Homo sapiens: one gene and its partner. The protein of the gene in region 1 purifies or fractionates together with the protein of each later gene. This does not show direct contact. Each region holds a gene or a part of one and is shown on either strand. Other genes may lie near its edges.

Evidence for each region. Proteins that work in one complex are often made in the same cells at the same time.
Region 2: the proteins of KIF13B (region 1) and DCP1A purify together in Homo sapiens (affinity purification with mass spectrometry, with the first as the bait; one large-scale study listed by BioGRID). This does not show direct contact.

The regions. Positions count from the first base shown.
Region 1 is NC_000008.11:29,066,778-29,071,070, forward strand, and holds the end of KIF13B (kinesin-like protein KIF13B), read right to left. Parts: intron 3,990-4,293; coding exon 3,727-3,989; 3' UTR 501-3,726; downstream 1-500. UniProt on the Homo sapiens protein: Involved in reorganization of the cortical cytoskeleton. Regulates axon formation by promoting the formation of extra axons. May be functionally important for the intracellular trafficking of MAGUKs and associated protein complexes.
Region 2 is NC_000003.12:53,313,044-53,316,543, forward strand, and holds part of DCP1A (mRNA-decapping enzyme 1A), read right to left. Parts: intron 1-3,500. UniProt on the Homo sapiens protein: Necessary for the degradation of mRNAs, both in normal mRNA turnover and in nonsense-mediated mRNA decay. Removes the 7-methyl guanine cap structure from mRNA molecules, yielding a 5'-phosphorylated mRNA fragment and 7m-GDP.

The sequences.
Region 1 (4,293 bases):
TGCCCACCTCTGCAGCAGGGGAAAGAAGTCCTCTCACCCCAGTTTGAGGGGAGAGGGGAGGTCCAGTGTGGGGACCAACACGAAGGTCACAGCAGACAGTGGAGTCATGCCTGAGAGCCAAGGAGAGTCCCTACCAGGTCACCTGTCTCCCAGTAGCACCACTTACCTGGGGTCGAAGGGCCCCAGAAAGTTTCCATGGTTCCTGGCTTCAGTAAGGGGCTGAAGTCCAAACAAGGAAAGATGACTCAGAACCGGGGGGCCTCCTGGGCTCTTAAGTCCAAATCATGAAGAGTTCAGCCTCTGAAGTCCATGGGCTGGGGAGGCGAGCACGGCCTGCTGCTGTTCCCTGATCCTCCTCCTCCCAGTCTCAGTCTGGAAAAGCCCCGCACCACCTTTGCTGAGAACAAGGCCACACCATGACAGGATGGCCTGCCAGGAGCCCCAAAACCCTATGTTGGGGTGAGGGGAAGGAGAAGCAACAAGACTGGCCTCAGACATGATGCAGGTGAGAAATGGTCTGGTTTTATTGAGAAGCTGTTGGTCATTTGATGGAAAGACACATACGGTACAAAATTACAGGTGGTTTAGTTCATTACATGATACAAATCATTAGAGTCTTTACAAGTCATTAGAGTCTTTGGATTTTTTAAACTCCCATTTACTGTGTACCAAATCAATATAATCACAGAATCAAAGTCACTTCTTTATATGTGAACTCTTCGCATTTACACGAATCCACACATAGAGAAGCTGTTCCAAGACCCCCCAACACCATTAGTGTCTGCAGCCCACCAGGAAGGCACCACGGACTTTGTGGAGAGAAAGATGCTTTGGGGGTTCAATGGGTCAGTATCTTGGGCAGGAAGCACAGGGTGACTCCCGTCTTGTGTGCGTGCGCACAGCCACCAACACACACTCTCAGGACTTCCCGTTTCACATACAGGGAACTTTTAAGGCAAGAGGAGAAAATGCTAGGAAGTAACGGGGGATCAGAACTCCTCCACCTCTCAGGCTCCAGCAGTCACATTCCCAGCTCCGTTCTCTTGTTGAACCTTGGTAGGCCCAGAAACATCTTCCCCCTCCTCACCTCTGCCCTCCCGCTCCCTCTGGTCAGGCCTGGGTACCCAGGAACCCAGTCACACACCTGCCCCCTGTCCCCTCTGCTGCTGGACGCAGTGCCCGGGGCAGAAGTGAGCCTTCTCACCCTGGAGCCTCAGTCCTTCATAAGGGCCCGAGGGAAGTGGCGGGGTGGGGCCAGGGATGTTCTGGGCACACAATGGGGAGGCAGGGCCCCCAGAAGCATCCCCCACCCCCATCTCTGACAGCGCCGCGTGTGCAGTTACTGCCCTTCCCGGCCTTGGGTGCCATCTGCGGGCCGACCCACACTAAGGTGCCACTCCTGGGGCCTTCCAGGAGCGCATCGGGAGTCCTAAGGCGGGTGGGCGGGCAGGCGTTCTTGGGAGGTGAGTCTGCTGGTCAGGGAGGCAAGAAAAGAAGATAGAAGACGGAGGCCAGCCCGCCCTGGCCCACCACTCTGGAGACCGCACCTCCTGCCTGCCAAGTGCTGGCCCGGGGTCAGCGGGGCTCACTGCCTTGGTGACCACGTCACTGCACATCCCTCTTTCCCAGCCACAAGCTGACATTAGTCCGCACCGAGAAGCAAGAGTGAACAGGGCCTGGGCCCAAATCCACCTGCTCAAGTCAGGAACTCTGGCTCGTTCTACTCCACTGTAAGTCAAACCGATGGTAAAAAGCACGACACACACGTCCCCCAGGACTTTCCCAAGATGGTGCTACAGGAGGCCGCTGCTGGGTGGATGGCTCAGCCACCACGAAGTGCCAGGTCCCACCCACGCTGCCCGTCCGCCACCATTCCCAGAGCGTCCCCACTACACGGCCCAGGCGTTTCCCCTCAGGGCAGCAGCAGTGCTGGCCTCTCACCCAGGCCATAGTGACACCAGCGGACCCAAAAACAAACTTCTCAGTGAAACAGGTTTTAAAAAGAAAGCCGCTGTGCTGGGAAGCGGGTTGAGTTAAAGGGCAAGGCAGAGGTGACAGCTCTTCATCCAGGGACAGGTGCCACAGGGTTCCCTCAAAATCGGCTAAGGACAGGGAGAGCCCTGGAGGAGTGCCTCCCCCCAGGGGCCGGGCCCTCTGCCAGCCCGGCCGCAGCCTTCGTGTCCCTCGCCAACTGGGGAGAGAAAGACAACCTGTCCTCGCAGCCAGGGCTGGGACAGGCCCACCATGGAGACTACTCTGTTGGCGCCTTCAAGTCCCTAGAGAACCAGAGCCTTCCGCAGCGCTTTCTAGATGTTGACTAAATGTGAGAACTAGAAACCAGCTCCAAGGGTGGCTGTGTGAATCTTGACCCAGGACTCCTGTCCCTAGATTGGTGGCCTTCCACACATAGACGCTAACCCCCATCCCACAAACCTGGCACCAAAGGCTCTGGGAGCATAAGTGCCCCAGCCAGGAGGTGGAGGCCACCCCGGAAGCTTCCGGCTGTCCCGCCCACACCATGCACGGTGGGCCTGGGGGCGTGGCTGCTGTGAGGGTCTGGAGACTAACCAGCACACTCCCTGCACCAGCCCAGCCGCCAGGCCCCAGCCCCACACTCTGAGAGTCTGGGAGTTGCCGAGAAGTTAAAATGACCCAAAGACCTTCCTAGAAACCAAAAGTGCACCAAATAAAGTAGCAATGCCTCTTCCTTTGTCACCGACTACAGAAGCACATCATTCTCCCAGGTTTTTGCTCTCATCCAAGTTAAGAGTAAGGCCACTGTGGATCCGCAATAGAGGGATGTGAGGAGGGGGCTTTATCCTCTGCCGTCCCCAGGACCCTCCACCTGGGCAGGAGGCCAGCAGCTCTGCAATGGCCAGAGAGGCTGCAACGTGCAAGGCAGGCCCTGGGCCCCCCCACACAGGCAGACGACGATTGCGGCTCGCAAATGATTTCGGATTTTGAAAAAATAAATATAAATAAATACATTCCAAGCCTTCTGTGAAGGGAATAAACGGCAAACATAAGAGACTTTCCAGGTGTCTAAAGATGCCAAAACATCCACAGAGAAACCGCTAAGAAACCCTGGCAGAGGAGGGATGGGGGGGCTCAGGCCCTCGGCCCCCGTCTGGGGCACCAGGACCATCTGCCAGAGCCCAGGGCCCTCCAGAGGCACTTGTGGAACCTGGGACCAGGGTGGGAGGCTGGGGGGTCCCCCAGAGGCACTTTGCGGGAAACTGGGACCAGGGTGGGAGGCTGGGGGGCTTGCGGAGTGAGCCAGGACATCCTGGGTGGGTGGGGGGGCTTGCCCTCCAGTGGGGAGGAAAGGCACTGGTTACAATTATGGTTTAGGTTAAGACATTAGTGGGGCCACCAGAATGGAAATGATAGAAAGAGCAACATAAGGCCCCAGGCACAGGCACACAGCAAGATCACCAGGCGCTGCACCACCCAGGGTCTCAGTCCTAGCATCCCCCAGCCCCTGCGGGCACCCAGAACCTTCCATCCACCTGAGGAGGCACAGTTGAGGCCCCCACTTTACCCGGGTACAGAAGAAACAAAGCTTCCAGAGGCCCAGGGAGGTCACCAGCCCTGTGTCGTGCAAAAAGCATTCATCGCCCTGCCCCTGGGGAAGGGGCCACCGGGCTCCTGGCTCCTCAGGGCTGTCACTGGCAGGGCTCAAAAGGGGCCGGGCACCCCCAGAAAAGTTCGCCCTAAGGCAGCGGCTCAGCTGGCCCAGGATTTCCGGTTCTCAGGGTTCTTGTGGCTCCTGTCGGCCTTGGCCAGGGCAGCTGTCAGCGAGGCCAGGTTGGTGGCGGAGCCCGAGAGGGTGGCGCTCCGGCGGGCCTCGGGGGCACCCAGCCGGAGTCCTGTGCTGCGCCGCCGCACAGGGCCCGTGGCCCTGCGGACCCGGCTGGGCCTGACCAGCAGCCCGTAGCCAGGGTTACACCTGAAGTACTGCTTCCCGCCGATGGAACCGTCATTCTTACCTGCGGGGGAAGGAGAGGGTGATATGGAGGGCAGCCGAGCTGCAGACGGCCCCCTGCACCTCCCTTACCTCTGCAGAGGCCATGTGCCCACACTGCCACCCCCCCGCACAGGCCCTACACAGCCAGCACTCGGACACTGGCCATTGTCTGGCAGGGACTGGCTAAATGAATGTGGCCAGGGCCTGGGGTGACCGCCTCCCAGGACAGTGAGCAGTGGTGACCAAGGATGCACAGCCCCAGTCCTGCAGCCTCAGGTAGGAGGTGACAGGCCCTGGGGGCCCTGGGGAGTGCCTTGTGGAAGCAT
Region 2 (3,500 bases), on another chromosome or scaffold:
AAGACACAGGAAGGCTGCATAGTTGAACAAATCCTCTGTGGAAAGTTTGGATTGACACTGGGCTAGCAAGGACAAAGTCAGTTCTTGAAAATAGAGGTCTTGGTGAATCCTTAAAAGTTAGTAACACTATAAGCAAATAAAAGGTTTCCCTTATTCTCCCTTTTAAAAACCACCAACTTAGCCTGGGCAACTTGGCAAAACCCCGTCTCTACAAAAAATACAAAAATTAGCTGGGCGTAGTGGTACACGCCTGTAGTCCCAGCTATTTGGAAGGCTGAGGTGGGAGGACTGCTTGAGTCTGGGAGGTAGAGGCTGCAGTGAACTGAGATCACACTACTGCACTCCAGCCTGGGTAACAGAGTGAGACCTTGACTCCAAAAAAAAAAAAAAATCACTAAGTGGGCTTTCAGTTTTTAAGAACACCCCCTTCTCCCTTGTAAAGAAAGATCTGAAACAATTACAGCAAAATATTAGGAACTGAAAGCTGGGTGGTAAGCACATACATATTTTATTATTTCCTATATTTTTCTTCAAGCTTTCAAGCTTGAATAATAAATTTTAATAAAGCAACTTTTTTTGTTTTTTTTAAGATTCATTCAGGCCAGGCACAGTGCTCATGCCTATAATCCTAGCACTTTGTGAGGCTGAGGCAGGACGATCACTTGAGCCCAGGAGTTTGAGACCAGCCCAGGCAACATAGTGAAACCCTGTTTTAAAAAACAAAAAACCCAGCCTGCACAGGAGCTCTCATTAGAGTGTGGGGAAGAGGTGAACAGAGATGGCTTTTTTATTTAAAAATACTGGGTTAAACAATATTAAACCGACTTAAAAAAAAAGAAAAAACAGAATCCTTGAGTTTTATTATTATTTTTGTAGAGATGGAGTTTGATATGTTGCCCTGGCTGGTCCCAAAACTCCTAGTCTCAAGTGATCCTCCTGCCTCAGCCTCCCAAAATACTGGGATTAAAGGCATGAATTACCACAACCCACCCATTGAATTTTTGTTTGTTTGTTTTATTTATTTTTTTATTGTACAGACAAGGTCTCACCATGTTGCCCAGGCTGGTCTCAAACTCCTGGCCTCAAGCAATCCTCCCACCTCAGCCTCCCAAAGTGCCGGGATTATAGACATGAGCCACCACAACTGGCCAGTTGATTTTTAAGCATGCTAAAATTTATTGTGATTCTCCAAGAAGGGCAGGCCTATAGATTTTCTCAAATTTTATTTGACTATAGAATTTTACTCTGAGGTAGAATTCCTGTTTGGAAAATGTGGCTTTAAGGTAACATGTAGTTTTTCTATCTAGATTCATAATTATAGCTCTTAATAAGACTATTACTTCTAAAACAAATGTAGCATCATGAGCTTCATGGTAGACTGAAAGACTGGTATGGGATATGAGAATAAGACCAAACATGAATTGTTTATTTAATGCTCAAATATAGGCCACATCAGCCTGAATCCATCTTCATAAAGGATCTGTCACACGGCCTGTTTTCCACCTACCTCCTGACATGTTGCCTGACTTGGCCATGCTGGTATTTAACTCTTCCCTGACCCAGACTAGGATCTGTGATTCTGTGATTATTTTGGTTTAAGAGAAGAATATTTCTTTTCTTTTTCTTTTTTTTTTTTTTTTTTTTTTGAGACAGAGCCTTACTCTGTCACCCGGGCTAGAGTGCAGTGGTGCGATCTCGGCTTACTGCAACCTTCGACTCCCGGGTTCAAGCGATTCTCGTGCCTCAGCCTCCCTAGTAGCTGGGATTACAGGTATGCACTATCATGCCCGGCTAATTTTTGTATTTTTAATAAAGACAGGGTTTCACCATGTTGACTAGGCTGGTCTTGAACTCCTGACCTCAAGTGATCTGACCACCTCAGCCTCCCAAAGTGCTGGGATTACAGGCGTGAGCCACTGCGCCCAGCCAGAACAGGTAATTTTATAAAGCTCACCACTGCTGAAAGCAGAAGCTGTCGGGGGTGGTAATGGAAGGGACTCTCACATAAACGAGGCTTGGACTCTAAGGCCTCTTCTAATCCAAACTTTATGGATAGCACTCATGCCATTCTCCTTTCCTTTCAAACACCAAAACCTACCCCTAAGATGTCTGTAAGATCAGGAATAAAGCTTACTTCCATGAGTTCTCCAAAGTTTACATAGTCTATGTGGCCAAACCGTCAAACAACTTTTTATTGTTAAAAAGAGTTTCTGAGGCCGGGTGTGGTGGCTCACGCCTGTAATCCCAGCACTTTGGGAGGCCAAGGTGGGTGGATCATGAGGTCAGGAGTTCAAGGTCAGCCAGGTCAAGATGGTGAAACCCTGTCTCTACTAAAAATACAAAAATTAGCTGGGTGCAGTGGCAGGCACTTGTAATCCCAGCTACTCGGGAGGCTGAGGCAGGAGAACTGCTTGAACCCAGGAGGGCGGAGGTTACAGTGAACCCAGATCACGCCACCACATTCCTGGGTGACAGAGCAAGACTCTGTCTCAAAAAAAAAAAAAAAAAAAAAAAGAGTTTCTGGCAGACTGGATTTCCTCTTTAGGAGAGTCAACAGCTTCTAAGTTTAGTGGGTTTTCAACTCTGCCACCACTGACCAGAGAATATACAAATTTAGATGACATAGGGTCTAGAAGCTCACTCATTTTCCTACATAGTTTCTCGTTTTTATAAACATTGTTTGGAGTAAATCAGTTTGTTGTTTTTTTTTTTTGTTTTTTTTTTTTTTGAGACGGAGTCTCGCTCTGTCGCCCAGGCTGGAGTGCAGTGGCACGATCTTGGCTCACTGAAAGCTCCGCTTCCCGGGTTCACGCCATTCTTCTGCCTCAGCCTCCTGAGTAGCTGGGACTACAGGTGCCCGCCACCATGCCCCGCTAATTTTTTTGTATTTTTACTAGAGACGAGGTTTCACCATATTGGCCAGGATGGTCTCGATCTCCTGACCTCGTGATACGCCTGTCTTGGCCTCCCAAAGCGCTGGGATTACAGGCGTGAGCCACCGCGCCCAGCCTGGAGTAAATCAGTTTTTTTACTTGGAGGATCTTTATTATATTGTGGCTGTCAAATAGTGATGGGAAGAACTGTATTTAAAAGAATGGGCACTGATGGACACATTTATTTATATGTATAATATACTAACAAGAACTGTGCTAGTATTTTTGGATAGTAGAGGTGATATTCTCAAATATGTAGCAAACAACAACAACAAAAAGTAACAAACAGGTTTATGCAGGCAGATTTAGAACAAAGACAGATAGTCTTCTTTAGTTTTGGTGACCAGAGAGGCATTTATCACAAAGTTAATGGTAACATACAATATTCTCTTCAGCTATAAATAGGCCAGACACTTAAAACTCATTATCAACAGTTTCACCAGGGTATTCTCTAATCACTTTTTTTTTTTGAGATGGGATCTCACTATGTTGCCCAGATTGATCTTGAACTCCTGGGGCCCAAGTGATCTGCCCACCTGGGCCTCACAAGTATTATAGCTGAAATGA